Regions from separate parts of the Homo sapiens genome. Here all the other regions are linked to region 1. Evidence: fine-mapped QTL for protein levels in blood plasma. A gene starts in region 1. Each other region holds a variant in brackets. All regions are shown on one strand. Distances are between the middles of the regions.

Evidence for each region. PIP is the chance, under the fine-mapping model, that this variant and not a neighbour inherited with it causes the effect. Sun 2018 read protein levels with aptamers (SomaScan).
Region 2: its variant is fine-mapped to the plasma level of the CA6 protein (Sun 2018, PIP 0.95). The variant lies in the coding sequence of CA6. If it changes the protein, the assay may bind it differently, which can mimic a change of level.
Region 3: its variant is fine-mapped to the plasma level of the CA6 protein (Sun 2018, PIP 0.95).

Annotation. Positions count from the first base shown.
Region 1 is chr1:8,938,747-8,949,372 of GRCh38, reverse strand. It overlaps CA6 (carbonic anhydrase 6), which reads right to left and starts at 3,505. Exons shown (of 8, transcript NM_001215.4): 1 at 3,408-3,505; 2 at 1-110. The coding sequence starts at 3,486.
Region 2 is chr1:8,952,911-8,963,536 of GRCh38, reverse strand. It overlaps CA6 (carbonic anhydrase 6), which reads right to left. Exons shown (of 8, transcript NM_001215.4): 3 at 6,252-6,400; 4 at 4,535-4,627; 5 at 881-950. Among named protein-coding and RNA genes, the nearest start is that of CA6, 12 kb to the right of the region's middle. RefSeq lists an enhancer at 253-547. The variant T/C (reference allele first, on the strand shown) is at 6,392.
Region 3 is chr1:8,971,739-8,982,314 of GRCh38, reverse strand. CA6 (carbonic anhydrase 6) reads right to left here. Exons shown (of 8, transcript NM_001215.4): 8 at 7,223-7,693. The coding sequence ends at 7,611. It also overlaps the pseudogene RN7SL451P. Among named protein-coding and RNA genes, the nearest start is that of CA6, 31 kb to the right of the region's middle. The variant T/C (reference allele first, on the strand shown) is at 7,776.

The sequences.
Region 1 (10,626 bases):
CAAGGAGGGGTTGTACCGCACCTTCGTCCTCTGTAGGTTGATAGGCGACTGTCTCTGGCCCCCACAGGCGGGGTAGTGCTGTGGCCAGTGCGCTTCGTCCAGTGCCCCTTCTAAGACAGGAAAGACACAGTTCAAGGGGCTGCCTGGCTGCGCCCACTCTGGAGGAACCTCACCAGGCCAGAGGCCAGAGGCCAGGGCCTGCTGGGCGGGGACCCACGGAGGCACCTTCCAGAAAGCAGAAGCAGGTCCCCCAGAAGGAGGCCAAAAAGACAACGAGGTCAACTCCAAGGACTCTGGTGTTTGGGGGGCTTTGGTGCTAACCTCTAACTTTCCTGTGGCAACTGCTGGCCCTGGGAGCAAGACAGTGTTTTGAAATCAATGGAAGTCTTTTTTTTTTTTTTTTGAGACAGGGTCTCGCTGTGTCACCCAGGTTGGAGTGCAGTGGTGCAATCTTGGCTCACTGCAACCTCTGCCTCCCAGATTCAAGAGATTATCCGGCATCAGCCTCCGGAGTAGCTGGGATTACAGGCATGCACCACCACGCCTGGCTAATTTTTGTATTTTTAGTAGAGACGGGGTTTCACCATGTTGGCCAGGCTGATCTCTAACTCCTGACCTCAGGTGATCCACCCACCTTGGCCTCCCAAAGTGCTGGGATTACAGGCGTGAGCCACCGTGCCCGGCCTGAGAGTGTTTTATACGTAAATTTTTGCTCTCGTTTGACTTATTTCCAGCTGGTGAATGCATGGAGGGATCCTTGGCTTTGCTCTTCCTGTGCTGCTCCTGGGGCCTCTTCCTCATTTCCTCCCAAGGGCCCAGTTGTCCTTCCATGCCCCCAACAGGAACACAGCCCCCACCTCCCCATGCTGCAGGAACCCCCCACCACTATTTTCTTGCTCCAGCCCCTTTTATGGATTCCCGTATGGTAAAGACCATCTAGGTGTCTACACTTATGGATTCAGGGAAACTAAGGAAGCATCAGGTTCCAGGACAACCTAGAATGAGTACTTTTTTAAAATTCATAAGGAGAAAGTTTATCTTTTCAGAGAGGGTTGATAATCGTAGGGGACAGAGTAACATAGGTGAGTGATTATCATGGTGACTTGGCTCCCATACAGCTGTGGAGCTTGGAGTCAGCCATGTGACATGGAGAATCCCACCTCTGTTCCCTGTTCGGGGGTAGCTGTGTGGTGAGTACACAGCTTGTTTTAAGACAGGTGTTTGTGGCTGGGCACGGTGGCTCATGCCTGTAATCCCAACACTTTGGGAGGCCGAGGCGGGTGGATCACCTAAGGTTGGGAGCTCGAGACCCACCCTGACAAACCTGGAGAAACTCCATCTCTACTAAAAATAAAAAACAATCAGCCGGGCATGGTGGCACATGCCGTTAATCCCAGCTACTTGAGAGGCTAAGGCAGGAGAATCACTTGAACCCAGGAGGCAGAGGTTGCGGTGAGCCGAGATCGCGCCACTGCACTCCAGCCTGGGCAACGAGAGTGAAACTCTCAAAAAAAAAAAAAAAGGTGTCTGTACTAGGGCCCTCACCGCTTTTTGGTTTGTAATCAAGGCAATTGGCCTGGAGCACAACGCCTTCTCAGAGCAAGATGCTTTGGCCCAGGGCACTGTCAATACTGGAACATCTCTCAGGTTTCCCTGGAAGGCATTTACAAAAGCTACTCTCAAGTTCTCCTGGAGCCCCTAGTAGTTTCCCAGGAAGCCCACTGTCTCAGAGGCTGGGCAGAGCCTGGGAAGGACAAGGACTTCATTGTCTGAATTCTCTCTTCCTTCACCTCTGAACCACCTGCCTGCACTGCTTGGCCAAGTGAAGCAGAATGCCCCAGGCTTCCGAGGCACTGCCATGTGTAAGATCACTGTCCTCAGGAACAGAGCGGTTGTTCAGAGCTGGCTGGACTTTCTGAACCTCCCAGGATGTCCCTAATTCCGTTGCCCTTGACTTAACAGATCATCCCGTTCACCCTGAAGGAATGCTTCCGGAGCAGCTGAACTGGGGCAGACTCTGCAGGAAGCAGATGTTTGTCTCACTTCCTGCATCAGCCAGCGGCCACCAGCCTCCTCATGGGCCCCAATCCATGGTCCCGTATGGAAAGAAGGGGGATGCGGGAAGAAGCTCTCCTCACTGCCCCTGGAAAGGGCTGTTTAGTGTCCACAAAGTCCACAGACACGGCCTTCTAGCTTTGGCTCACATGTGGACCAGAACCCATGTTGAATGCCAGGATTTTACATTTCACATTTTAAAAGTCTGGTTTGGGGCCTGGCGCGGTGGCTCACGCCTGTAATCCCAGCACTTTGGGAGGCTAAGGTGGGCGGATCACTTGAGGTCAGAAGTTTGAGAACAGCCTGGCCAACGTGGTAAAACCCCATCTCCACTAAAAATACAAAAGTTAGCCAGGCATGGTGATGAGTGCCTGTAATCCCAGCTACTTGGGAGGCTAAGACATGAGAATCGCTTGAAACCAGGAGGCAGAGGTTGCAGTAAGCCGAGATGGCACCACTGAACTCCAGCCTGGGCAACAGAGCAAGACTCTGTCTCAAAAAAAAAAAAAAAACAAAAAAAAAAACACCTCTCATTTTGGCAGCCCACAGATCAAAGGGAACTGGGTCCTTATGTCAAGATGTTCTGGGTAAACTGCCTACCATGAAATTTCCAAGAAAGAAGGTCTCGCAAACCCCACAGCACCTTCCGTGAGGTTACCGAGAGTCTTTTCTAAGAACTTTGTTTTCCACTTACACGGACCAACAAAGCAAATGGTTTTACAAATAGAAGCAGTGAGTGTGCTTTTGAACCAGCCAACACTGTGGATGGAAAAAAATTTAAAGCAAAAAGCCTGTAAGTAAATCAGGAGTTTGTGAAGGGGAAAGCTATTTCCTTCTTTTCCTTATTTGAAGTTTAAGTTCAGCTTATTCTCCATACCTTCTGAGACACTGAAAAGGTAACATCTGAAGCCACAATGAGCAGACCCCCAACATATGGCAAGTGGGCTGCCTGGCCATCCTGTGAAATGCCCTAAAGGAGGACTCTTGGCCGGGCGCAATGGCTCATGCCTGTAATCCCAGCACTTTGGGAGATGGGCAGATCACCTAAGGTCAGGAGTTCGAGACCAGCCTGGACAACATGGTGAAACCCTGTCTCTACTAAAAATACAAAAATTAGCCAGGCATGGTGGCAGGCACCTGTAATCCCAGGTACTCGGGAGGCTAAGGCAGCAGAATCACTTGAACCCGGGAGGCGGAGGTTGCAGTGAGCCAACATCACACTACTGTACTCAAGCCTGGGCAACAGAGCAAGACTTTGTCTAAAAAAAAAAAAAAGAAGAAGAAGAAGGGCACTTGTCCTGTTGTAAGGGTGTGAGGGTAACTGGGGGAGCATGCAGAAGCTAGGGGCTCACCTGAGTAGGTCCAGTCAGACACATGCTGGGCCTGGCCACCCAGCAGGAACAGGGACAGCAGAAGCACCAGGGCCCTCATGGTGCTGCACATCTGTAATGAAGACTGATTCCGGCGAAGCTCTTCTTTTAAAGGCTCAGAAACTGTAAATAACAATTTACAATTGATCTGCCCAGCTGGCTAAACCACCCTTTGCTGCACCCACTAAAACAATAACACCCTCCCCATAACAGCACTTCTGGCTCCGTGCATTGCGCCAGGCAGCCCCAGCACCTGCCTGATCTCCTCCCACGTCAATTTCATATCCGGTCAGTCCATGGGTTTGGTTGTTCAGTGTCTTAGGAACACCTGAAGAGCCACACAGTGCAGCCATTGTGGACAGGTGACCGCGGAAATGGGAAAAGGCCCAAGGCAGGGAGAAGCAGGATGAAAGACTTTCCTGGACGTCGGACTTCCCATGCTCTTTCTCCTGACATTAGAGATCTGGGGACTGCTGATGGGATCACCACTGCCTGCAAACCCTGCCCATCTCAGTCATGGACACAAGCCACCGCTGCAGACATGTGGCTGCCCTCAGCCAGGCATCCAGGGAGGTGGCCTGGCCTCCATGTTTGGACATTTCACGGTCCTCTCCTTAAACCAGTGGTTGATCCTGGGTCCCAGCTCATGAGCCACATTCCAATGTGTGCCTTTATGCCATTCAAGCTGGTGTGGGCGTCTGCATTTCTACATGGATTTGTTCTGACACCTGCAGGGCTCTTGGGCACACCTAAGCCAATCAGCCAATTGCCCTCGCAGGATCCATGGATTACCTAATCCTGTGTATTCACTTGGCTAGACAGTCCCTGAAATTAGCTGAAGGAGAAACTTTTGAGTTTATGCCTGCTGACAGGCCAGCATTTCCCATGCCCTTCCACAAGGTCAAACACAAAGGGTAGCCGGAGCTCCTGCGGGGGGGCTACCATGCTGCCGGACACAAAGGGCCACCCCTGCCTTGTTATGGGGAGCTGAACCCCCTCCTGGCCTAGCTTAACTCATTGTCCACTTGGTCCTGGAATGGCAAACGTCAGCAGGCCTTCACAACAAGGATGTTAGCGGTGAACGTAGGCCTCCCGAATACTTCTAAGACTCCCCACTGTCATTTAATAGGGAACATCAGCTGCTGCAAAGAACTTGCTGGAAACTTCCATTTCTAAAGCTCAAGAGCTGAAAGAATCTCAGAGAGAGAGCAAAGCATGTTCAAGGACAAGGATTCTGAAACTAGACAGGATCTGTGCCACCTGCTAACTGTGTGACCATGGGCAACTCAGCGCTCTGTGCCTCAGCTTTCCTTCCTTTTCTTTTTTCTCTTTCTTTCTTCCTTTCTCTCTTTCTTTTCTTTCTCTCTTTCTCTCTTTCTTTCTTTTTTGAGACAGGGTCTCTCTCTGTCACCAGGCTGGAGTGCAATGATACGATTTCAGCTCACTTCTCTTGGACTCAAGCAATCCTCCTGCCTCAGCTTCCCAAGTAGCTGGGACCACAGTCGCATGCCACTACGCCCTGCTAATTTTTGTACTTTTTGTAGATACAGGTTTTCACCATGTTGCTTAGGCTGGCCTCAAACTCCTGGACTCAAGCGATTCTCCCGCCTCGTGCTCCCAAAGTGCTGGGATTACAGGCGTGAGCCGCCGCACCTGGCCGCCTCCTTTCTTTAAAAGGAGTTAGTGATAGCACCTCCTTTGTGGGGATTCGGCAATAAATGTGCCTGCAGTAGTTGGAGCAGTGCCTGGTGTGTAGCAAATGGCATTAGCATCTATTCAGACCCCTCATTTTATAGGAAAAGGAAGTGATTTATCATTGCCACCCAGCTGGTTAGTGAGGGAACTGGAGGAAAAATGCTTCAATCTCCAGCTTATGGACCATTTCTTTGCAAAAATGAGAAACCTACTCTTCTGTCCTTGCTAAACCAGTGACGCCCACCTGCTGACTCCCAGCCCTGCGGAAAGGGCCACCTTGTAAATCACAAGGCCCCACCTCTGCTGAGGAGACCAAGACCCTTTACAAGCCCAGGCAGGACCCCTGACATCAAACTGGCAGGAAAACACAAACTCAGTCATCTGAATTTTTTCTTGGGAATCTGAATTGGGAGACCCAGAAAGAATCAGGGAGCTGCAGGCAGGCAGAGACTAAAATGTCAGGCTGTCACGGAAGCCTGGGAGGACTGGATGAGCCCAGGCGAGGGGAACTGGAGCAGGAAGGAGCTCAGAGAAAGCCTGGGCCAAGGGGGAGGGGAAGACTGCCCAAAGAGGGGCCCTGGAGAGTCAGAGAGAGGAGTGCTTGCGGGAGAGCACAGTGAAATGCAGAGGGCCCACCACTCCTGGCAGCTCCCAGCCCCACGGGTCTCACTGCCCTGCGGTGAGCATTTGGGGCTTCCCAGGAGAGCTCTGGGGCGTTCCTTGCCTCACACAGCTCCTTAAAATACAGTGCACATACTGCGTCTGTGAAGCTGTGATGCCAGCAGCCCCTCTGCAGAACTGCTGTGCAGCGTATCCACCCATCACATCTGAAGCTTTGCCCTGGTTTTGCCTTTCGCTCAGGCAAGAGCCTGGACTGGCCAGCAACCTGTTGACCTGGCTGGTGTTGAGAATTGGTGTGAAAGTGAGTAATTAAGGCAATACGGGGGTCAGATCAGATGATGGCCTCTTGGAGAAGCAAGGCCATCTGCCAACGAGGGCATATTTCTAGAGAGAGGGTCCCCTCCCTCCGCTGTACAGCACACTGCCAAGGACATACTGGACCCAGAATCAGGTGTGGTCAGTAGTGTTGCCTATTTTCTGACTCCTTGTCTACTTCAAACCTGAAATTTTCCGTCACCTTTGAACATGAGTCTTCTTCTTGGATTTGGGAGGCACATTGTTTGTTTGGGTTTGCTTTTGTTGGTGGTGGTGGCAGTGGGTTTTTGTTGTTGTTGTTTTTGGTTTTTGGTTTCTTTTTTGAGACAGGGTCTCACTCTGTTGCCCAGGCTGGAGTGCAGTGGTGCAATCATGGCTCACTGCAGCCTCCCAGTGCTCAGGTGATCCTCCCGCCTCAGCACCCCCTTCCGCCTCATCCCCTCCAAGTAGCTGGGACAACAGGTGCGTGCCCTATGTGTGCTCTGTTTTTGTTGCTTTTATTTTTAGTGTGTCTCTCTATGCTATGAGCTTCCTTCTGCCTTCATCCAACCATATCCTTGGCTGATCAAGGTTGTTTTTTTAATTCTAAACTCCTATTTTTCTAGGGTCTATGGTTGGATTGGCTGTCGGAGATGAGTTGACAAGTTTATCATTATTACAACATCAGGTCAAAGGGAGAAAGGAGCCTTTGTTCTTCCTTGCTTCTACCACTGCCCCCCCGACAAGGCCCACTGAGGCAAGGAAAAAGAAGGAGGCAGGGAGGCATGGCCAGCCCAGGTGGGCAAGAAGGCACCATCAGCCCAGGTGAGCAGGGACAGATCATGAACCAAATGACTAGGGAGGCACCGTTAGCCCAGGCTGCACAGGACCAGCATAAAAGAATGAGTCTGGCAGGCCAGGCACGGTGGCTCACACCTGTAATCCCAGCACTTGGGGAGGCCGAGGTGGGTGGATCACCTGATGTCAGGAGTTCAAGACCAGCCTGGGCAACATGGTGAAACCCCGTCTCTACTAAAAATACAAAAATTAGCCAGGCATAGTGGTGCGTGCCTGTAATTCCAGCTACTTGGGAGGCCGAGCCATGAGAATCACTTGAACCCAGGAGGCAGAGGTTGCAGCGAACTGAGATCACGCCACTGCACTCCAGCCTGGGCAACAGAACGAGACTCTGTCTCAAAAACAACAACAAAAACAAACAAAAAACAAACAAAAAAGAAAGAGTCTGCCTACACAAGAATATGCTTATTTGGGTGTAAGTAACACAGAAAGGCTATTGTTCTGTTTCATGCAGGAGTGTGAGCTCATCCTGAAGAATGAGTCACTCTGAACAAGTAAGTTCTAGATGGTTACAGGCTCAATCCTATGTAAGCACCAAGATGTTTAAAACCTCTAAAATGTACGGTACAGTTTTAAAAAGATAAAGCTGAATTTTATTAAACTTTTCTTAATGACTGAGTCCCACTAATATGAACATCAATTATTCTCCTGCATTGTAATATATTGATGTCTGCTGGGCCTATAACATATAACATATATATATAATTCTCCCTGCAAGAAACGACCCCTGGCCAGGCACAGTGGCTCACACCTATAATCCCAGCACTTTGGGAGGCCAAGGGGGATGGATCACCTGAGGTCAGGAGTTCGAGCCCAGCTTGGCCAACATGGTGAAACCCCGTCTCTTCTGAAAATACAAAAGTAGCCAGGCATGGTGGCATGTGCCTGTGATCCCAGCTACTCGGGAGGCTCAAGAGGGAGACTCCATCGTCTCAAAAAAAAAAAGAAAGAAAGGAAAGAAATGACCCCTAACTGTAGTTTTTGGATTTCTTTTACCAGATACTGAGAGAGGAAAGTTAGCTAGCTTAATTGATTACTAAAGCAATGCACGTTTATGCTCAGGGGTATCCATAAGGCTGGGACATAACCAATCAGGACAGAAGCCAGACTTGGTGTGGAGGAAAGTCTGAAAGCTCCCTGCTCTGCCAGGAGTTAACCCTGGATTGGTGGATTGTAGGGAGATTGGGAAGTTCTTGGGAAGGGCTGAGCGGCAGGAGCAGCTGGAGGTACCATTGTGTGTGTATTGATTTTGTTTTTCATTGTTTTTTCATTGTTAGCATTTCTTTCTTTTTTTCTTTTCTTTTTTTTTTTTTTTTTTTTGAGATGAAGCTTCACTCTTGTTGCCCAGGCTGGAGTGCAATGGCGTGATCTCGGCTCACTGCAACCTCCACCACCCGGGTTCAAGTGACTCTCCGGCCTCAGCCTCCCAAGTAGCTGGGATTACAGGCGCCCACCACCATGCCTGGCTAATTTTTGTATTTTTAGTAGAGACGGGGTTTCACCATGTTGGTCAGGCTGGTCTTGAATTCCTGACCTGAGGTGATCCGCCTGCCTTGGCCTCCCAAAGTGCTGAGATTACAGGTGTGAGCCACCGCGCCTGGCCCACTATTAGCATTTCTAACATGGGCTTCCAGCTCTTGCCTCTTAGGGTTGTCTGTCTGTTCTCATCTCCTGGCTTCCTCATCTGTTTGGCAGAAACCAGATGACCACACTTCTTAAAATTACATGTCCAAGAAGAATGGATAGAGCTAAGCCAACAGCCCAGAGACTGTCCTCTACCTAAAATACACACACTCTGAAATGCCTTCGGCATTTTGATGCTAAACTCACAGATTTCTATTTCCTTTCTGACTTTCAGCTATATCCATATAAATGGAGCATTGACAAGTCATTGTGTAAACTAACCCACTCGCAAAATATCCAGCTACAGTCAGGTCCAACTCCACGGGGGGGCCCTTGCTTTCTCTCACTAGCCTCCTGGTGATGAGTTCCCCAGTCTTAGAGAGTATCTCCAGCCTCACACATCCTCCTGGAATTCAGCACCTGTTGGGTAGGGTTGTCTCCCAACAGGCATCTCCTCCTGTGTCTCTATCCTCTTCCCCACTGGGTACCAGTAACCCACATCCAAAAGCAATCAGCCCAAAACCCTAGTGGAAATCCTCTTTTCTATCATTAATTTAGGTATAAGCAAAATAGGAACCAAATACCTAAAAATATTTACAGCTCAGCCTGCCATCATCCTGTGCCCCTTCTCTGTGCAAACTCACCATCCTCCTGCCACGAGAATTGGATGTTCTGTTTGTATCTCTTGCTGGCTCTACCTTCTACTTCTTGTAGAAGTAGAGTTCTGTGTTCTGTGTCTTTTATGTGGCAGAAGCCGGGAAGTCTTCCGTGGGCTTTGCTCAAATGGGAGGGTAAAATTCCCTACTAGGAGTGTTGCATCTGTATATGCCTGGGATTGGCCAGAGTGACTCCATCTTGGTTATTATCCATGAGTCTTGCTTATATCTCTTCAGTGTGCTCCACCCCTAGTAGGCCAGAGTCTTGCTTATATCTCTTCAGTATGCTCCACCCCTAGTTTACATCTGCATGGCAGGTTTGTATGCCTTTCAGCTCCACCCTTCCCTGGTCAATAAGCAGGTCAAATCCACCCTTCCTGATCAAATGCATAATGAGTCGTCACCCTCCCCTCATGCCTAAGGGACCGATTATGCAAGCAGAGGATTGTATTAGTTTCCCACTGCTGTAACAAACTGCCAAAAACTCAGTGCTTAAAACAACACAAGTTCATTATCTTACAGATCTAAAGGTCAGAAATTCAAAACCAGTTTCACTGGGCTAAAGTCAAGGTATGGGCAGGGGTGGCTCCTTCAGAGGCTCTGAGGGGATCATCGGTTCCCTTGCATTTTTCAGCTCCTAGTGGCCACCTGCATTCCTTGGCTCGTGGCTTCTTCCTTGAATCACTCCAATCTCTTGCTTCCTTTGTAGTTTGCTTAGTCCTTAGTGCAGCTAGGTCCGAGTTCTTGCTCTACGACCAAGAAGAATAAGGCACACAGACAGTGGAGAGTGAGTAGAATAGAACAGGATTTATTAAACAAAAGGAAAACTCTCAGCAAAGAGAGGGGTCCTGAAAGCGAGGCAGAAATTTAAAAATAACAATCATAATAATAAGTACTGCACTTATTCACCCCAAGAAAAGTAAAAGCTAAGGCCCAGAATGTGGCAAGGCAAGGTTTCAAAAGAAAAAGAAAAGGACAAGTTTTCCTCTGCTTAGCAAGCTCATTTCAAGGACTGTTAACAACGCTGTCGGAATAGCCAAGGCCAAAGGAATGGGCTCCAGACACTCCCCTGCTTCCAGAGCAAGGTTGAGGGGGAAAAAAGAGAGAAAGACAGATTATTTTACTGTTACTCTTTTCTCAGTCTTCTTAAGCATTATTATGTTTTACAAATGTCTGTATTTAGCCAGCTCTTGTTTTTCTTTCGATGCAGCTGCAAGGCCACCAGCTATGTAAGGTCACAAATTATGTTATGCTATAGATTACGTGACCTGTCACTGTATGATTAACTGCTTTTGTTTTGCTTCTGTAAGGCCACTTATAAAAACCCCACTCTGTCTTTGTTCAATGCTCAGCTTTTTGGATGTGAGTCCACTGAGCCAGTGCATACCGAAAATAAACAATCCTCCTGTTTCTCTCATATTGGTCTCTCCATTCCTCAGTTTATTGCAACAAAA
Region 2 (10,626 bases), 14 kb before region 1:
CAGTTAGATGTCTATGGATTTCTGTCCAGTTGCATTCAGCTGTTTGGCTGCCAGCCAACCACTAAGAAAATAACTAAAAAAACTCCAGAGTTGGTCTGGAGATTTGCCAGGTGAGTTTGTGGAGGGGTGGAGGGGTGAGGGCTAGAGGGTGTTTGCATGGGAGTGTTGAGGGAGACTTGAGAGTATCGGGGTGGAATCTAAGCTGGGAGAGAGATGAAAGGACACAGGCGTCACTAGGAGCAAGAATGTGGAAGCCCCAGGTTTGGAGGACTCCGGTCAGGTGAATTGCAGGAGGGGCTGGGTGCTGAAGTCAGAGGACTGGGAGGCTGGGAGGTGTGGCCGGAATGGGACGTGTGAAGTCGAGGATGCAGAGCTATTGTGGTTATAGCTCAAAAGTCAAGGGTTGACCCTGGGTGGGAAATGGCTCTTACAAGAACGCCGCCCTCTGGAGGAGAGGGGACGGAAGAACACCCCGAGTGTCTGGATGTCCAAGTGGTATGACGAGGGCTTCCCTCTTGACATTCATCTCAGCTTGGAGCCAGGTGGACATCTCTCTAGCTGCCAGGACTGTCACTGCCAGCTGAGGTGACAGTCATCGAAGCAAGGATATGCCTACTTAGTGCAACTCCAGTCAGAAGTTCCAATCATGGGAAATGACACATCGAATTTATGCACAGGCTTCTCAGAGAGGTTTGCTGCCTAAGCCAACAGCAGAAATCACTGGAACAAGTAACCTGGCACAGGGAGGGATGGACTCCCTTGGCAGGGCCCACGGGCCACCCTCCCCACCAGCATCAATCCCCTGCCCCCTGGGCCCACCTCACACTCACACTCACACTCATTCCCCTTCCCTCCTGCAGCCACAGTTGGCTTCCCTTACCTGGGTACTTGATGTTGGCCAGATGAGAAATGAAGTTGCTGTAATAAGTGTTTTCAGGGTAATTCTTCACCTGCAGAGAAACACAGAGCACTGAGCGTAAGTGAAGAAGAGGCCCCAGCACCATCGCTACTAATCCAGCCACTCAGCTTTCTAGCGGATTGGGCCGAGCCTAGAGAGTAAGGAGAGGCAGCCTGTGCCGTCTTGTGTTTTGGCAGAGACAGTCTGGCTGTTCTTTGCTACCAACCACGCAGGTTCATGAGTCCTTCCAGAAAGGCATTATCTGAAGTATTTTGGCAGCTTCCAGGGAAAGAAGCTTGTCAGTCATTGGTGATGCCCTCAGAAATGGCCAACTCTTACTCTAAAAAAGTCCCCTGTGCGCTTGTTTTTGTTTGTTTGTTTGTGAGTTTTTTTTTTTTTTTAAGAGTCTTGCTCTCTTCCCCAGGCTGGAGTGCAGTGGCATAATCTCGGCTCACTGCAACCTCTGCCTCCAGGGTTCAAGCAATTCTCCTGCCTCAGCCTCCCGAGTAGCTGGGATTACAGGTGCCCACCACCACACCTGGCTAATTTTTTTGTATTTTTAGTAGAGATGGGGTTTCACCATGTTGGCCAGGTGGGTCTCCAACTCCTGACCTCAGGTGATCGGCCCACCTCGGCCTCCCAAAGTGCTGGGATTACAGGCGTGAGCCACCGCACCTGGTCTGTGCACTTGTTTTGGGCAGTGTCAGCCACAGTCAGATTCTTTGTGATGAGGAGGGCTTGATCTCACAAGTTCCCTTCTTCATCCTCAGGACTTCCGACAGAGAGCCAGATGTCCAAGGCAGAACGACTACAATTCCCCCAACACCAGGTCACTCTTTCTGAATGAGTATTGACTTTAACAGTCAGAAAAGTTGCTTTGGGTGAAAAAGGTCTATTTTCAATGGCTCTTTTCAGTCAAGTGGTGTTGATCTCTTTCACTGTGCATAAATTTGGCTTTCTTGGCTTTATGACTGCATTTGCTATTTGTTTTCTAGATGTCTCGTGCCTTTTTTGTTGCATTGGTCCACCTTTACTGCCTTCTTTTGTGTTAAGCAAATACTTCTCATTTACCATTTAATCATTTTTAGTTATTTTCTTAGTGGTTGCTCAAATGATTACCATATACAACTCAATCACAATCTATGTCAGGTTAATATTAACTTAATTTCAGTAAAATATAGCAACTTTGCTTCAAAAGAGCTCTATTTCATCCTCATCCTTCTATTTTTGTCATATGCATTATATCTACATATATTATAAGTCAGTGGTATAGTCATTGCTTTAAATAATCTTGATGGTTTTTAAAAAGAAATTAAAAGAAGAAAACACAAAAAATATATGTATGTAGTCTTTTCTATTCTCCATTTCCAGTACTCTTCACTTCTTTCTGTGGATCGGAGTTAACCGTCTGGTATTATTTTCTTTCAGCCAGAAAAGCATCCTTATATATGACTTGTAAGATAGACCGGCTAGCAATTATACTGGTTTTCGTATATCTGGGAATGTGTTGTTTCACCTTCATTTTTGAAGGGTGGTTTATTGGATATAGAATTCTTGATTGACAGTCATTCCACTGTGTTCTGATGACTTGAAAAGTCAGCCATTAATTGTACTGTCATTCCCCTACATATAATAAATCCCTTTTCTCTTGCTGCTTTCAACAGTTTGATTTTTGATGTATCTAGACTTGGGGTTTATTTATCAGACTTGGGGTATTTTTAGTTTCTTGGATTGATAAATTTATGTTTTTCCTCAGATTTGAGGCTTTTGGGCCATTGTTTTGTTTTGTTTCATGTTTTTCTTCCACTTTCTCTCTCTCCTTTCCTTCTGGGACTCCCATTATATATATGTGTGTGTGTGTGTGTGTGTGTGTGTGTGTGTGTGTGTGTGTGTGTTGCTATACTTGATTTTGTCCCCATGAGTCTGCAAGGCTGTTCATTTTTCTTCTGTCTTTTTTCTCTGTTTTTCAGATTGGATAATTTCATTGCTCTATCTTCAAATGCACTGATTCTTTTTTTCTTCTGCTGCCTCAGATCTGCTTTGGGCCCATCTAGTGATTCTTTTTCCATTTTGTTTATTGTACTTTTCAACTCTAGACTTTCCATTTGGTGCATCTTTAAAGTTTCTATTTCTCCATTGAGATTCCTTTTTTGAGTCATTGTCATCATATTTTCCTTCAATTCTTTGAACATAGTTTCCTTTCATTCTTCAAACATTTATGATAGTTGTTTTTTTTTTTTAATTTTTCTCCCAGCCACAGCATTGATAGTTGTTTTAAAGTCCTGTCTGCTTAATCACTCTGGGTCCACTCAGGTCAGTTTCTATAGATTGTTTTGAGTTATTTTTTCCTCCTAAATATGGATTACATTTTCCTATTTCTTTGCATGCCCGACTTTTTTTTTTTTTTTGAGACGGAGTCTCGCTCTGTCATCCAGGCTGGAGTGTAGTGGCATTATCTTGGCTCACTGCAGCCTCTGCCTCTTGGGTTCGAGTAGTTCTCCTGCCTCAGCCTCCTAAGTAGCTGGGATTACAGGCGTGCGTCACCACGCCTGGCTACTTTTGTATTTTTAGTAGAGATGGGGTTTCCCCATGTTGGTCAGGCTGGTCTTGAATTCCTGACCTCAGGTGATCCATCTGCCTCAGCCTCCCAAAGTGCTGGGATTACAGGCATGAGCCATCGCGCCCAGCTTTTTTTTTTTTTTTTTTTGAGATAGAATCTAGCTTTATTGCCCACGCTGGAGTGCAGTAGCACGATCTCGGCTCACTGCAACCTCCACCTCCCGGGTTCAAGTGATTCTCCTGCCTCAGCCTCCCAAGTAGCTGGAATTACAGGCGCCTGCCACCATGCCCAGCTAATTTTTGTATTTGTAGTAGAGATGGGGTCTTGCCATGTTGGTCAGCCTGGTCTTGAACTCCTGACCCCAAGTGATCCATCCACCTTGGCCTCCCAAAGTGCTAGGATTACAGATGTGAGCCACCACGCCCGGCCCCACCATCTAGACTTTCTTAGAAATGCAGAGGTGTTGACTGGGCCTGGTGGCTCATGCCTGTAATCCCAGCACTTTGGGAGGCTGAGGTAGGGGGATCACCTGAGGTCAGGAGTTCACAACCAGCCTGGTCAACATAGTGAAACCCGTCTCTACTAAAAATACAAAAATTAGCCAGACGTGGTGGCAGGTGCCTGTAATCCCAGCTACTTGGGAGGCTGAGGCAGGAGAATCATTTGAACCTGGGAGGTGGAGATTGCAGTGAGCCGAGATTGTGCCACTGCACTCCAACCTGGGTGACAAGAGTGAAACTTCGTCTCAAAAAAAAAAAAAAAAGGAAATGCAGAGGTGTTGCCTTTGTCTGACTGAGTTGCAGGTTTCCCCTTGCCCTTCGAACAATTTGTGTCTACGCAACCCCTCTGGGATTCCAGCTCTTTTAAGTCAGCTTGTCCACGTTAACCAAGGTCCGGAGATTGACAGCACGGAAGGAGCACAGTGATCTTCCATCGAGTCAATGTTTCCAAGAACTGTGAGCTCAGGAAAAGATGAAGAGTGATAATAAAGAAGACTGTTCAACTAGACTTCACACCTTGTTTGGACATCAACCTATAACTTCAAATACAGACACACATGGGTAGTTTCTGCTTACCTCAACGAAGGCTGCCAGTACAGCCAAACCATCCGGCGCATCTTGGGCTATATCATAGCTCTTGTATTTAGAATTGTAGTGAACAATGTGAATCTGTAAGAGCAAGGTAGAGTGGGTCAAGGGCAGTTCATAGAAATTCAAATGCTTAAGATTTCCAGGGAAGGAGGAAGAGAAAGAAAGGTGCTCCGTCTGAGGCCTCAGACTGTTCCACACAAGCAACTTGGACCTCCATCTCTCTCCATCTGGGCTGCAATTCCTATCTATCAAGAGCAGAAACTTCCCCAAGAATGGAAAGAGCAAGAGTGGGATTCTGGAAGATGGCAGTTCGAGGCCATTTCCCGACCACACCTCCCTCCAGGCAGACAAGCTGGCAGAGTCTGAAGGGATCACATGAGGACAGTGGGTTCTCCTGGAGTGTCTGGGGGCTTTGCAGGGAGAGTGAGCTTGCGCCCCTTGTCCCAGGCAACCATTGTTAACATGTAGTCATCCTATGGATGGATTCTGGCAAAAGAGGTAACTCAGAAAATCTAACACAGTCCAGGCACAGTGGCTCATGCCTGTAATCCCAGCACTTTGGGAGGCCGAGGCGGGTGGATCACTTGAGGTCAGGAGTTTGAGACCAGCCTGACCAACATGGCGAAACCCCGTCTCTACTAAAAGTACAAAAATTAGCCGGCCATGGTGGCAGGTGCCTGTAATCCCAGCTTCTCGGGTGGGTGAGGCAGGAGAATCATTTGAACCCAGGGAACGGAGGTTGCAGTGAGCCAAGATCATGCCACTTCACTCCAGCCTGGGCAAAAGAGCAAAACTCTGTCTCAAGAAACAAAAAAAAAGAAAATCTAACACATAGAAATCCAGCTGAAACAAAGGAGGGCTTGCCACACCCTGTGGGCTGTGAAGTCCTGCCAACCTGAGTCCTGTGAGGGCAGGACCTTGCCTGAACCCCTGTCACAAAGTGGTGATCTGTCAATAGTTGCTGAGTGAATAAAAAATAAACTCAACTTCAGCATGACTTAACTGCTACCATCGCACAGTCTTTTGGCTGTTTTTGTTTGTTTGTTTTGTTGCTCAGACTGGAGTGCAGCGGCATGATCAGGACTTACTGCAGCCTCAGCCTGCTGGCCTCAAGCGATCCTCCCACCTCAGCCTCCTCAGAAGCTGGAACTATAGGCGTGTACCACCACTCCTGGCTAATTTTTTTTTTTTTTTTTTTTTTTGTAGACACAAGATCTCGCTACATTGCCCAGGCTGATCTACAACTCCTGGGCTCAAGCAATTCCCCTGCCTTGGCCTCCCAAAGTGATGGAATTACAGGCGTGAGCCAGTGCACCTGGCCTTGGCTATTTTAATAAGAAAAGTGACGGCTGGGCACTGTGGCTCACGCCTATAATCCCAGCACTTTGGGAGGCCAAGGCGGGTGGATCACCTGAAGTCAAGAGTTCGAGACCAGCCTGGCCAAAATGGTGAAATCCCGTCTCTACTAAAAATACAAAACTTAGTAGGGCATGGTGGCGGGTGCCTGTAATCCCATTTACTCGGGAGACTAAGGCAGGAGAATTGCTTGAACCCAGAAGGCGGAGGTTGCAGTGAGCTGAGATTGTGCCACTGCACTCCAGCCGGGGCAACAGAGCGAGACTCTGTCTCAAAATAAATAAATAAAAAGAAAAGTGACTATGGGGTTCAAAGGAAAGAGGACACAGTGGGGGTCCTCAGGTACCTCGATCACATGTCTGATCCCGTCCACGGTGTGCTCAGAGCCGCTGATCTCCGAGGACGCACCTCCCCAGTGAAAGTGCATCTGCTGGGCTATGTATACAGTGCCGTCAGCCACTGTCATGCGCATGGTGGAGGGCAGGC[T/C]GATCTGCACTGGAGAGACAAGGTGGGGCTGAGAGCAGAGTAGGTGAACACAGAGGGGTCAGGCCTACAGGCTGGGTAGCTTCTCTGCTCACCTCCCACCTGTCTGAGCCCAGGGCAAGCCAATACCATAGACTGGCTTAGAATGCCATGGGCAGGGTCACCAAAGGAGAAGAGGCGTTTGCGCACAGGGCACAGGGTGAGGTCAGGATGGAGGCCAGGCACTAAGTAAACCAGGCTGGGCAAGTGCCTCTCCCCAGCACGCTCCTTCCCGCCCAGAACCAACAGGCCAGAGGCAGGACCACACAGTGGCAGGTCCAGCTTGCTGGCCCCAGGGAAAGGGAAGGTCCTGAAAAATTATGGCCAATGGGCTTGGAAACTAGAATTCTACTCTCTATCTCTGGCCAAGTTTGGAATTTGCCGAAGGTATAAGAATAGGAAGTGGGGCCTCTTAGAACTGTTTTCTTTTCTTTGTTTTTTTTCATGCTCACTCTGTTGCTCAGGCTGGAGTGCAGTGGCACCACGATGACTTGCTGCAGCAACTCACTGCAGCCTCCAACTCCTGGCTTCAAGGGATCCTATCACCTCAGCCTCCCGAGTAGCTGGAACTACAGGTGCCCGCCACCATGCCTGGCTAATTTTTGTGTTTTTAGTAGAGACAGTGTTTCACCATATTGGTTACGCTGGTCTCGAACTCCTGACCTCAAGTGATCCACCTGCCTCAGCCTCCCAAAGTGTTGGGATTACAGGCATGAGCCACCACGCCCAGCTGAAATCTCTGCCTTTTGGAATGAACTACACAAAAAGAAAAAAACGGGCTCAGTTACTAAGAAAAGTGACTAAGAAAAATATCTATGAGGATATAATTTCGGCGTTGGAAAGGCAGCATGTGTCTCATGAGCAAGATCTTCCTATTTATTTATTTTGAGACAGAGTCTTACTCTGTCACCCAGGCTGGAGTGCAGTGGCATGATCTAGGCTCACTGCAACCTCCGCCTCCTGGGTTCAAGCAATTCTCCTGCCTCAGCCTCCCCAGTAGCTGGGATTACAGGCATATGCCACCATGCCCGGCTAATTTTTGTATTTTTAGTAGAGACAGGGTTTCACCATATTGGCCAGGCTGGTCTCGAACTCCTGACCTCAAGTGATCCAACCTCCTCAGCCTCCCAGAGTGCTGGGATTATAGGCGCGAGCCACTGCGCCTGGCAAGATCTTCCTATTTAAAGTCATCAATGGTGGCTGTAAACAAGAACATTTTCTTAAAAGATAGCAAATATGAGGTATTTAAAACCTGTCACGTGCCCCCTCTTTCTTTCCAAATTGTCTAAAGGAGCGGGGAGCTATGATTAAATTCATAACGTAATGTGCTATAATGCAGTAATCCGGCCTGAAAGGTTTTCACCGGCTGTTTGGCAGAACAAATGCTCTGTATTTAGAGCTTGAGATGTAGCTGGCCTCAAAAATCAATGCTTGCAAGAAAAGGACGGAAGGGCCTTAAAAGGAGGCGTGGAAGGGCCTTAAAAGGAGGCGTGCAAGGTCAGTGATGCTGAAAGCAGACGGGAGCCGAGGAGCTGAGGACCCGAGCAGAGCTCCCTAAATGGACAGTAAGCACCACAGGAGAAATGAGAGAGGTCCTCACAATTTCCCCAAAACACAGCTCCCGGGAGACGGAATGTGTTACTTCTGGTTACACTGACAGGCCCACACAGGCCCAATTGGAAAAGAGCCACAACCCTGAGCCTGTTACTGTGCTTTTTAAAAAAGATTTTAATTGAGGCAGGGTCTTACTCTGTCACCCAGCCTGGAGTGCAGTGGCATGACCTCAGCTCACTGCAGCCTCGACCTCCCAGGCTCAAACAATCCTCCTGCCTCAGCCCCTCAAGTAGCAGGGACTACAGGCACACACCACCATGTCCAGCTAATTTTTAAGTTTATTTGTAGAGACAGAATTTCACCATGTTGCCCAGGCTGGTCTGAAACTCCTGGGCTCAAGCAATCCACCTGCCTTGGCCTCTCAAAGTGCTGGGATTATAGGTGAGCCACGGCACCTGGGCAATATATATTAATGGATCAGTGCCGGCACCTGGGCAATATATATTAATGGATCAGTGCCGGCCCACCAACTGTTACTAGTCTGCACCAAAACAGAGAAATTGGGAGTTCATTTTAGAAATTTTGTAGCAACTTGTCTTTGTTTCAACAGCCTGTGTTTCAATTTGAATTTCTCTTTATTGAAATGTTGAATCTAATTTAAATTTAATTTTAAAATGAGGAGGCCAGGCCCGGCAGCTCACACCTGTAATCCTAGCAATTTAGGAGGCCAAGGCAGGCAGATCACCTGAGGTCAGGGGTTCAAGACCAACCTAGCCAACATGGCGAAACCTCGTCTCTACTAAAAATACAAAAATAACCCAAAAATATGGACAAAATCTATATAAGGAAAATCACAAAACTAATGAAATAAATCAGGAAGAACTAAATAAGTGGAGAAATATTCCATGTTCACAGATAGGAAGACTTAATACTATCTCAATGTCAATTATTTCCAACTTGGTCTATATGTTACCAAAAACCGGTCCCAATCCAGACCCCAAGAGAGGGTTCTTGGATCTCACACAAGAAAGAATTTGGGGTGAGTCCACAGAATAAAGTGAAAGCAAGTTTATTAAGAAAATAAAGGAATAGGCCAGGCGCAGTGCCTCACACCTGTAATCCCAGCACTTTGGGAGGCCGAAGCAGGCAGATCACTTGAGGTCAGGAGTTCAAGACCAGCCTGGCCGACATGGCGAAACCCCGTCTTTACTAAAATTATAAAACTTAATGGAGCATGGTGGTGCATGCCTGTAAACCCAGCTACTTGGGAGGCTGAGGCACGAGAATCACTTGAACCAGGAGGCAGAGGTTGCAGGGAGCCAAGGTAGCACCACTGCACTCCAGCCTCAGAGCAAGATTCTGTCTCCAAAAAAAAAAAAAAACGGAAGTAGTGGAATAAAGAATGGCTGCTCCACAGGCAGAGCAGCCCCAAGGGCAGCTGGTTGCCCGTTTTTATGGTTATGTCTTAATTATATGCTAAACAAGGGGTGTATTATTCATGCCTCCCCTTTTTAGACCACATAGGGTAACTTCCTGACGTTGCCATGTCATATGTAAACTGTCATAGCACTAGTGGGACTGTAGCAGTGAGGACAACTGGAGGTCACTCTCGTGGCCATCTTGATTTTGGTAGGATTTGTCAGGCTTCTTTACTGCAACCTGTTTTATCAGCAAGCTTTATGACCTGTATCTTGTGCCAACCTCCTATCTCATCCTGTGACTGAGAATGCCTTAACCTCCTGGGAGTGCAGTCCAGTAGGTCTCAACCTTATCTTACCCACCCCCTATTCAAGATGGGGTCACTCTGGTTCAAACGCCTCTGACATTACTATACGATCAAGCAAGCTCTTGGTAATTACCCACATGGACTGAAAACACACAAACCTACACATGGAATTGATTGATTGATTGATTGACTGATTGATTGATTGATTGAGAGAAGGTCTTGCTCTGTCACCCAGGCTGGAGTGCAGTGGTGCAATCATAGCTCACTGCAGCCTTGACCTCCCAAGCTGCTCAAGTGAGCCTCGCACCTCAACCTCCTATGTAGCCAGGACTGTATGTTTGAGCCACCATGCCAGGCTAATTTTTTTATTACTTTCGTAGGTCTCACTACATTGCCCAGGCTGGTCTCAAATTCCTGGGTTCAAGTGATCCTCCCACCTTGGCCTCCCAAAGTGCTGGGGTTACAGGCATGAGCCACCATGCCTGGCCTGCATATGGGTTTTATAACAGCTTTATTCATAACTGCCAAAACTGAGAAGCAGCCCGGATGTCTTTGGATAGGTGAATGGATAAACTGGTTCATCCAGGCAATAGAATATTCAGCACTGAAAAGAAATGAGCTATCAAGCCATGAAAAGACATGGAGGAAACTTAAATGCATATTGCTAAGTGAAAGAAGCCAATGTGAAAAGGCTACATGCTGTGTGATTCCAACCATATGACATTTTGGAAGAGGAAAAACTATAGGTCAAATAAAAAGATCAGTGATTGCCAGGGTTTAGGAAGGAAGGGAAAGATGAACAGGTGGAACACAGGATTTTCATGACACTGAAATGATTGCTCGATACATGTGATTAGAAACCTTTCAAAACCTGACTGGGCATGGTGGCTCATGCCTGTAATCCCAGCACTTTGGGAGG
Region 3 (10,576 bases), 33 kb before region 1:
ATTTTTAGCATTTCTTTATATGAATGCTAATTCATTCATTCAGTACATTTTCACTGAGCATCTTACATACCAGATAGTCTTTTCAGGTGGTTGGAGTTTGTCGTGAAAAAGAAAACAAAAATCCCATCTTCCTCATGGGGCTTACTTCTTCATGGCGAATTACACATTCTTCTGTGGCCTGAGTTTCCAGAAGCACAGTGTGTACTCTTATTTCGTGTTCAGTGATGTTAACACTGCTCAGTGTTTCCAAAGGTTGTCGGCCTGATCCACAGAATAGGATAGGATAGAATAGAATAGAATGCAATATAGTGTAAAGATCCCATCAATCTCCCATCTAATGGTGTTGGAAACCAATCATGATCATTACCGGGGTCCATCATTTCATTGAGGCTGCAAAATGACTCCTTCTGAATATACTAACTGTAATTCCTCCAAGAAGAACTCATTCTCACCAACTCTATAGGGTAGAACAGTGGCCACCCCAAAAGAATGTCCCCCCAGAACCTGTGAATGTGACCTTATTTGGAAAAAGGGGGCTGGGGGGGGTGGCTCATGCCTGTACTCCCAGCTCTTGGGAGGCCAAGGAGGGCAAATTGCTTGAGCTCAGGAGTTCCAGACCAGCCTGGGCAATAAGGTGAAACTCTGTCACTATAAAAAAAATTGTTTTAATTAGCTGGGTGTGGTTGAGCGTGCCTGTAGTCCCAGCCATTTGGGAGGCTGATTCGGGAGGATCACTTGAGCCTGGGAGGTTGAGAGGTTGAGGATGCAGTGAGCTACGCTTGTGTCACTGTACTCCAGCCTGGGCAACAGAGGGAGACCCCATCTTGAAAGAAAGAAAACGAACTGAGAAAGCAGGAGGAAGGAGGGAGGGAAGGAAGGAAGGAAGGAGAAGGGGAAGGGGAAGGGGAAAGGGAAGGGAAGGGAAGGGAAGAGAAGGAAGAAAGAAGGAGAAAGAAAGGGAAAGGAGAGGAAAGGAAAGGAAGAAAGAAGGGAGGGAGGGACAGAAAGGGAAGGGCAAAGGAGGAAGGAAGGAAGGAAAAAAGAAAGAAAAGAAAAGGATCTTTGCAGATATAATCAAGTAAAGAATTTTGAGATGAAGTTCTGGATTATTCAAATGGACCTTAAGTCCAATGACAAATGACCTTATAAGAGAAAAGCAGACGGACAAAGACACAGAGAAAAAGGGAAGACCATGTGAGGATGGAAGCAGAGACGGAGTGATGCAGCCACAAGCCAAGGAATGCCCGTGACCGCTGGAAGCTGGAAGAGGCAAGGAAGAAGCCCCCCAGCATCTTTGAGGGCAGCTTGGTCCTGCCAACACCCTGATCTCAAATTTCTGGTGTCCAGAACTGTGAGAAAATAAATTTCTGATATTTTAAACCATGTCGTTTGTGGTTATTTATTACAGCAGCCTCAGGAAACTGATGCAACCAACCATAGGATCTCTCAGCTGCAGTGTGCACAGGGAAGGCGGGACATATATTTGACCCTTTCTTTCTATTTGCCAATTTACAGAAAAATAAATGGTTTCCCTAGCAACCTCCAAAGAAGACCAGTGCGTTTTCTTTCACTTATTTTTAGGACCATAATGAACTCATATATTTCTATATATTCAGTGTTTCAATTTTCAATCCATTGCAGTTATGATTCTTTTTATGATATTGTTCTTTTGAATGCTTAAGTTGACCCAGGAGCCCCTTCAAGATGGCCCCAGTGTCTTTTTGACATAAATCCAGTACTTAGTTAAATTTCTTGTTTTCTGGCCTAAAAAGATATCCCAGGTTCTTCTTAAATATTCTTTTTTTTTTTTTAATAGACAGGAGTCTTGCTCTGTTGCACAGGCTGATCTCAAACTCCTGGCCTTAAATGATCCTCCCAACCCTGCCTCCCAAAGTGCTGGGATTACAGGAGTGAGCCACTGTGCCCAGCCCATCTTCTATATTCTTGTTCCGCATCTGGAATCAGTCATTTCTCCAAGGTTCCCTGATTCCTCATAGTGAAAAATGATATTTAGAAGCCACTATCTGGGCCGGGCACAGTGGCTTACGCCTGCAATCCCAGCACTTTGGGAGGCCGAGGCAGGTGGATGATTTGAGGTCAGGAGTTCAAGACCAGCCTTACCAACATGGTGAAACCCCGTCTATACTAAAAATACAAAAATTAGCCGGGTGTGGTGGCGCGCGCCTGTGACCCCAGCTACTTGGAAGGGTGAGGCAGGAGAAATCACTTGAACCCAAGAGGTGGAGATTGCAGTGAGCTGAGATCGTGCCACTGCACTCCAGCCTGGGCAACAGAGCAAAAGTCCATCTCAAAAAAAAAAAAGGGGAGCCATTATCTGGTTATAAGGTGTTAATTGCTTGTAGGTTGTTTTTGTTGGTAAGACGTTTCAGTGAACAGACCTAGGAAATACATGTTTTTAGAAAGAGAAAAAGAATTTATTGCCAAGTGCAGTGGTGCGTGCCTGTAGTCCCAGGTAGCTGGAAGGCTGAGGCAGGAGGATAGCTTAAGCCTAGGAGTTCTGGGCTGCAGTGCACTGTGCCAATCAGGTGTCCACACTAAGTCTGACATCAGTATGGTGACCTCCCTGGAGCAGGGGACAACCAGGTTGCCTAAGGAGGGGTGAATCAGCCCAGGTCAGAAATGGATCAGGTCAAAACTCCTGTGCTGATCGGTAATGGGATCATGCCTGTGAATAGCCACTGCACTCCAGCCTGGGCAACATAACAAGATCCTGTCCCTAAAAAAAAAAAAAAAAGAATTTATAAATTTATATTGATATTTCTAAATTTATGATTACAGAGTTTTTATCTAGCTTTGTTAATTTTTTTTTTTTTTTTTGAGACAGGGTCTTGCTTTGTCACCCAGGCTAGAGTGCAGTGATACAACCACGGCTCACGGCAGCCTTCACCTCCCTGGCTCAAGCAATCCTCCCACCTCAGCCTCCTGAGTAGCTGGGACCACAGGCATGGACCACCATGCCTGGCTAAATTTTATTTTTTGTAGAGATGAGGTCTTGCGGTGTTACCTAGGCTGGTCTTGAACTCCTGGGCTCCAGTGATCCTCCCACCTCAGCCTCCCAAAGTGCTGTGATTAAAGGTGTCAGCCATGAAGCCCAGCCTAATTTTTCAATTTGGATCTCTGTTTTTTATGCTGAAAATCTTGTTAGTGAGGACATTAACATAATTATTTGTGCACATATAGTAGTAGAGGATAGTAATTGCACACACACACAATTTCAAAATAACAATACCAATATAATTTTTAAGAGGATTCCTAAGTACTGTTTAAGATTCCTTGGTACTTCTTCTTGTCCTTAGGATATACTGCAGCAGGTATGTAGATGAAAAATACCGTGTCTAAAATAACATGAAAAAATCCTTCAGTGTTCATGCCACCGGCCCTATGTATAATTGTTCAATTGTTCTGCTATATTTTTATGTTGAAACGTAACTCGCGTTTTATGTTTCAGGAATGCTTTTTTCCTTACTTACTTAATTTTACTTTGCAATTACATAAAGCCTGATGTTCCAAAGTCAAAACTACCAAACAGGGCACATCCAGAAAACTCCACCTTCCCACGCCACCCTCAGCACCCTTCCCCTGCCTTCTCTTTTTAGGAAACCTTTTTTTGTTGTTGTTGTTTTTTTTTTTTTTTTTTTTTTTTTTTTTTTTTTTTTTGAGACAGAGACTTGCTCTTTCGCCCAGGCTGGAGTGCAGTGGCGCGATCTCGGCTCACTGCAAGCTCCGCCTCCCGGGTTCATGCCATTCTCCTGCCTCAGCCTCCCTAGTAGCTGGGACTACAGATGCCCGCCACTACGCCCGCCTAATTTTTTGTATTTTTAGTAGAGACGGGGTTTCACTGTGTTAGCCAGGATGGTCTTGATCTCCTGACCTCGTGATCCGCCCCCCTCGGCCTCCCAAAGTGCTGGGATTACAGGCGTGAGCCACCGCGCCTAGCCTAGGAAACCATTTTAATTTATTTTTGGTTTCTTTTTCCCTGTTTGTGCTTCAAAACATAAACAAATACTTAACTATATTCATATTTCTAATTCTTCTTGTGCCATCTGTAAAATTGCTTTTTTCAGGCTTAAAAACATAGCCTACAGGCCAAGCGCAGTGGCTCATGCCTGTAATCCCAGCACTTTGGGAGGCCAAAGCGGGCAGATGATCTGAGGTCAGGAGTTCGAGATCAGCCTGGCCGACATGGCAAAACCCATCTCTACTAAAATTACAAAAATTAGCCAGGGCGTTAGTGGCATGCACCTGTAATCCCAGCTACTCAGGAGGCTGAGACAGAAGAATCACTCGAGCCTGGGAGGCAGAGGTTGCAGTGAGCTGAGATCGTACCACTGCACTCCAGCCTGGGTGACAGAGACTCCATCTCAAAAAAAAGAAACAAATGTAGCCTAGAGATTATTCCCTATGCAGTTCTCTGTTGTGTGAATAGCCCTGGTTTAGTCAACCAATCCCCAACTGATGGACGTTTGTGTTTTTTCCTGTATTTTGCTGTTAAAAAGGTCAGCATGAATGGCTTTTTTGCAAGTTTCTTTCTTTCTTTCTTTCTTTCTTTCTTTCTTTCTTTCTTTCTTTCTTTCTTTCTTTCTTTCTTTCTTTTTTGAGATGGAGTCTTGCTCTGTCGCCAGGCTGGAGTGCAGTGGCACGATCTCAGCTCACTGCAACCTCCGCCTCCTGGGTTCAAGCGATTCTCCTGCCTCAGTCTCCCGAGTAGCTGGGATTACAGATGCACGCCACACCCAGCTAATTTTTTTGTATTTTTAGTAGAGATGGGGTTTCACCATGTTGGCCAGGATGGCCTCGATCTTCTGACCTGATGATCCACCCACCTCGGCCTCCCAAAGTGCTGGGATTACAGGCGTGAGCCACCGCGCCCGGCCACAAGCCTCTCTTAAGGATAGACTTTCAGGGGTGGGAGGGCTGGATCCCTGAGGACAGGCAAGTGTAATCCCATCTCCATCTTCATTTCCTTGTCTGCCTTCCCACAGGAATGTAAGTAAGCTCTTTGGCCGTACCGCCCACTGTTGCGTCTCTCATTCATTATAGACACACATATCTGGTGGAAAGAATGAATCGCACCGTGTCGTTCCCCTGTGGAAACCCTGCAGTCGCTGCCGTCACCTACAGGGTAAAATCCGAAACCCTTTAGTGGCACAGAAGATACCAGTGACGGCCTGACCTGCCCTGGCCACACCCCCGCTTTCCGTGCCAGCATCCTTGAACTTGGTCCTCTGACCACGCCAAATTGCTTCCACTTCCCCAGGTGTCTTCCCATCAGCACATGCCACACTCTCGGGTTACAATACCCCCGCCCCTCTCTGACTTGGTTTCCCAGGTGAACTCTTTCTCAGCCTTCAAAACCCAGGCCAAGCACTTGGATTTTAAACACAGGCGCTCCCTCCACCATGGGGCGATATGGCGATTACTTATTTTAGTGTCCACTCTGCTCACCAGACCCGAGCTGTAGGAGTGTGGGAGCTGTTCTCACCCATCCCTGAACCCCCAGCACCTAGTGTTATGTCAGGCTCAGAGCAAGTGCATAAGAAAGCTTGTTGAGAAAATGAAAGGGAGGCTTCCTATGGTTAAAAGAATGTGGATACAAAAGACTTGGGTTCAAATCCTGGCTTTTCATCTGCCACCTAGGAGATCTTGGGCAAGTCGACGTCTTGGTTTGCTTTCTGTAAACTGGGGATAATGCAAGTTCACTGAAGGTGGCCTTCGGGGCTGAGGGCAGTCACGTGTGGTGGAAGTGCTTAGGATATGACAAATAATGACATGGAAAAACAACAGAGGTAACAAGAGCAGAAGGAATTCAGAAGAGCCAGGGTGAGCTCAATCAGAAGTGAGGAGGAAGCTAAGGCATGGGAAGGAAGGGGCATCGATGAAGGGAATGCATAAGTGACCAAGAAAATTGGTAGCAGCCAGGTGTGGTGGCTCATGCCTATAATTCCAGCACCTTGGGAGACCAAAGGTAGGAAGATCACTTGAGCCCAGGAGGTTGAGGCTGCCATGAAGCTAGGATCACCACTGCACTCCAGCCTAGGCCACAGAGCAAGATCCTGTCTCAAAAAACATAAAAATAAAAATAAAAAATATGGGTCACTCTTCTGGGTACTTCTCAGTGTTATTTAATGATAAAAAAAATATGGGTCACTCTTCTGGGTACTTCTCAGTGTTATTTAATGAAGCCACAGCCCTATGAGCCCTGTGAGGTCATGTTATCATCCCACATAACTAATGGGATGCCTGAATCTGGGTCTGGTAACAAGGACCAGGCACCATTTGACCAACAAGGGGGTTTGCAGTGAGGTCCCCTCTCTTCTTTCCTTCTGTCCTGGGAGCCCTTCTTCTTTCTCGTCTCCTGTTTTTTCTTTGACTCACAGCCACTGCTCCAAACTTCCCCACTGACAAATTCTCAGTGTAAGAATCTCTTCCTAGGCCAGGGGTGGTGGCTCACGCCCGTAATCCCAACACTTTGGGAGGCCGAGGCAGGAGGATCACCTGAGATCAGGAGTTTGAGACCAGCCTGGCCAACATGGCAAAACCCCATCTCTACTAAAAATACAAAAATTAGCTGGGCGTGGTGGTGCACACCTGTAATCCCAACTACTTGGGAGGCTGAGGCAGAATAATTGCTTGAACCCAGAAGGCAGAGGTTGCAGTAAAATTATACCACTGGATTCCAGCCTGAGCAACAAAGCGAGGCTCTGTCTCAAAGGAAAAGAAAAGGCCAGGCGCGGTGGCTCACGCCTGTAATCCCAGCACTTTGGGAGGCCGAGGCGGGCGGATCATAAGGTCAAGAGATCGAGACCATCCTGAGCAACATGGTGAAACCCCGTCTCTACTAAAAATACAAAAAATTAGCTGGGCATGGTGGTGCGCAACTGTAGTCCCAGCTACTCAGGGAGGCTGAGGCAGGAGAATTGCTTGAACCCAAGAGGTGGAGGTTGCAGTGAGCCAAGATTGTGCCACTGCACTCCAGCCTGGCAACAGAGTGAGACTCCATCTCAAAAAAATAAGCAACAACAACAAAAAACACCTCCTTCCTTTTTATTAATCTTAGTCTTGGAAATCCCTCCCACTTTGATCTCTATCCCTTCACCTATGTGCGGTTGTGGGGGAGTAGGGGGAGGAGTGGGGGGAGGAGTCGGGGGCGGGCAGAACAAAGAAGGGATATTTGAAGTAATACAAAGGAATAGGAAAGAAATTTTTAAATGACAAATTTCCAAAGTTATTTTATTACATCTAATGCTAAAGGAAAGGTCAGGCTGGTTTATAATTCAGACAGGTCAACATATATGATTTGATGGGAGAATAGTTAGGGTTCCATTTCCTTTAAGTTTCTATTCCAATCAATTTCCACTGGTGATGTCTAACTCAGATCCCGTCTCATGAACTGAAGCCATCTCACTTCCTGTCCAGGATGATCGTTTCCCCTCTTTTAATCAGAATCCCAACAGCTGCCCCAGGGGGAGCAGCGTGTTCCAGACACACATGGTTTCTTAGACAAGGTAGGGTGCGGCTGCAGCGGACAGGCACTTCTGGCTAGGTCAGGCTTCAAGCTAGTTAATATTGAATCTTCCTCTTAGCTTTCCTCAGTTCAATGCTCTTCTTAAGTAGTCAAGAATTTCCTCAATCTTATGTAGGTAAAACTGGAATTCAGAGCCTAGAGTGTATTCTGTAAAAAGAAGAGTTAGTCGGAAATGGTTAAACCTTGTACAGTCCTCACAAAAACAGAGAAGGGGGACGGCCAGACACCA[T/C]ACCCGCATCGTATTTTTGGGAAGTCTTTTGATTCCTTAGAATGCTCTCCACGTGCCCGGTGCATTGCCTTTAGTCATCTTCACTGTGTTTGAACTCAGGCTTCTAAGCTGCCCAGAGCCAAGGGGTGGCGTGTTGAGGTGGGCTGTACTCTTGGATTTTGGCTTCTCCCACGATGCCCCCCGTGGCCCTTGCCTGAGGGGATATAGGCGTTTTCTAGTAAATAAATCGCAAGAGGTCCGTATTTGGCCATCGTCTTGTTTTTGTAACTGACCTTGGTTTCTCAATTCACTCCTTGCAGGTGGGTTAATCATATCAACCCCGCTGGGATACAGTTCTCTACAGAACAGTGAAATACCATGAGTCACGCAGCTGGGTTGACCACAGCCAATCACTGCTACATAGAAATCTGGGCCTGGCCAGGCGCGATGGCTCATGCCTGTAATCCCAGCACTTTGGGAGGCTGAAGTGGGTGGATTGCTTGAGCTCAGGAGTTCGAGACCAGCCTGGGCCACATGGCCAAAGCCCGTCTCTACAAAAAAATACAAAAATTAGCTGGGTGTGGTGGTACATGCTACTCCCAGCTACTTGGGAGGTCGAGGTAGGAGGACTGCTTGAGCCCTGGAGGTCATGGCTGCAGTGAGCCAAGATTGCGCCATTGCACTCCAGTCTGGGCAACAGAGCAAGACTCTGTCAAAAAAAGAAAGAAAGAGAGGAAGAAAGAGAGAGAGAGAGAGAGAGAGGGAGGGAGGGAAAAGAAAGAAAGAAAGAAAGAAAGAAAGAAAGAAAGAAAGAAAGAAAGAAAGAAAGAAAGAAAGAAAGAAAGAAAGAGAGAGAAAGAAAAATCCAGGCCTGAGGGAAGGTGGGCCAAGATGATGCCCAGTTGTCTGTTCTATAATCAGCAAAGGGAGGCCACAATTCGGGTTCCCTGGGGGTAAGGAAGCCCTCTGATGCTGAACTGGGAGTTGAAGTAATCGATCCTAAACAGCGATTCTTAGTGGACCTACAGACAAATCACAGCATGGAATACCTCAGTCTGGGGCCGGTACCTAGAACATCTGACCCCCTCGTGAGGAGATGCTAGAGTGACGCTGTAGTGGAAAAAGCATTTCAGATGTGGCAAATAGAACGATACGCAGTCTGTTAGTGACTATTGCAAGAATAGCGTAAAATTGTTTTAGGGAAAGCAGGGGAAATATGGCAACATTTAGACCTAGGAGACAGGCCGGGCACAGTGACTCACACCTGTAATCCCAGCAATTTGGGAGGCCGGGCAGGCGGATCACCTGAGGTCAGGAGTTCAAGACCAGCCTAACCAACATGGTGAAATCCCATCTCTACTAAAAATACAAAAATTAGCCTGGCGTGGGGGCGCGTGCCTGTAATCCCAGCTACTTGGGAGGCTGAGGCAGGAGAATTGCTTGAATCTGGGAGGCGGAGGTTGCAGTGAGCCCATGAGATTGCACCACTGCACTCCAGCCTGGGCGACAGAGTGAGAGACTCCAAAAGAATTAGGAGACAGACCCATGAGTCTAAGCTCCCTTTGGTCAGCCTGCTTGCAATTGGACCTGTTAAAGACGACATCACTTTCGGACAAAGGGATTCTTGCTGTTAATGTTGTATATGGTATAATATGGGGAAATGATTACTGTAACTGATGTCAGTTTTTTTCTTCTGTTAGTATTGTATTGGAGGAGTGAATTGTATTTCAGGAAACAATATAGAAAACACCTATATCCTCTGTTAATTCAGTAAGTGAACCAGGAAGGAAAGGTGGGGAGAAAATCACAAATAGGCCTTATTCGGGTTGGGGAGGTGGAAATTTAATTTTTTTGTTTGTTTGTTTGTTTTGGTTTTTTGAAACAGAGTCTCTCTCTGTCGCCCAGGCTGGAGTGCAGTGGCGCAATCTCGGCTCACTGCAAGCTCCGCCTCCCGGGTTCATGCCCAGCTACTCAGCCTCCCCAGTCTCAGCCTCCCCAGTAGCTGGGACTACAGGCGCCCGCCACCTCGCCTGGCTAATTTTTTGTATATTTAGTAGAGGCGGGGTTTCACCATGTTAGCCAAGATGGTCTCGATCTCCTGACATCGTGATCTGCCCGCCTCAGCCTCCCAAAGTGCTGGGATTACAGGCGTGAGCCGCCACACCCGGAGGAAATTTAAGTTTTAAAAGGTACATATAAAGATGGGATAAGGCCGAACGAGGTGGCTCGTGCTTATAATCCCAGCACTTTGGGAGGCTGAGGGGGGAGGATTGCTTGTGGCCAGGAGTTTGAGACCAGTCTGAGCAACATAGTAAGAGTCCATCTCTACAAAAACTACAAAAAAAATTAGCTGGGTGTGGTGGTGTGTGCCTGCAGTCTCCGCTACTGGGGAGGCTGAGGTGGGAGGATCACTTGAGCCTGGATGTTTGAGGCTGCAGTGAGCCGTGATTGTGCCACTGAGCTCCAGCCTGGGCAACAGACTGAGACCTTGTCTCAAAAAAGAAAAAAAAAGTGGGATAATATTGAGTACACAATATTGATAGGATACTGATTCTACTGTATTGGAAAATATAAAGGTATCAGGAATGGTTAACAGAATGGGCTGTAAAGACAATGGATTCACCACAACTTTACAGAAAGCAGACAAAATAAAGATGAGGAGGCTGTGAAATATTTACACTCTTGCCAACACAGAAACGAGGTGAGCCAAGGACACGGTTGGAGCCTGATCCAAGGAACTGGAGGATGCAGCGGAGGCTGGCCTGCCCGCACCTGCTTCCAGCACGCTGGGGTCTGGGGCCTGCGCCCCAGGCAGATGCAGG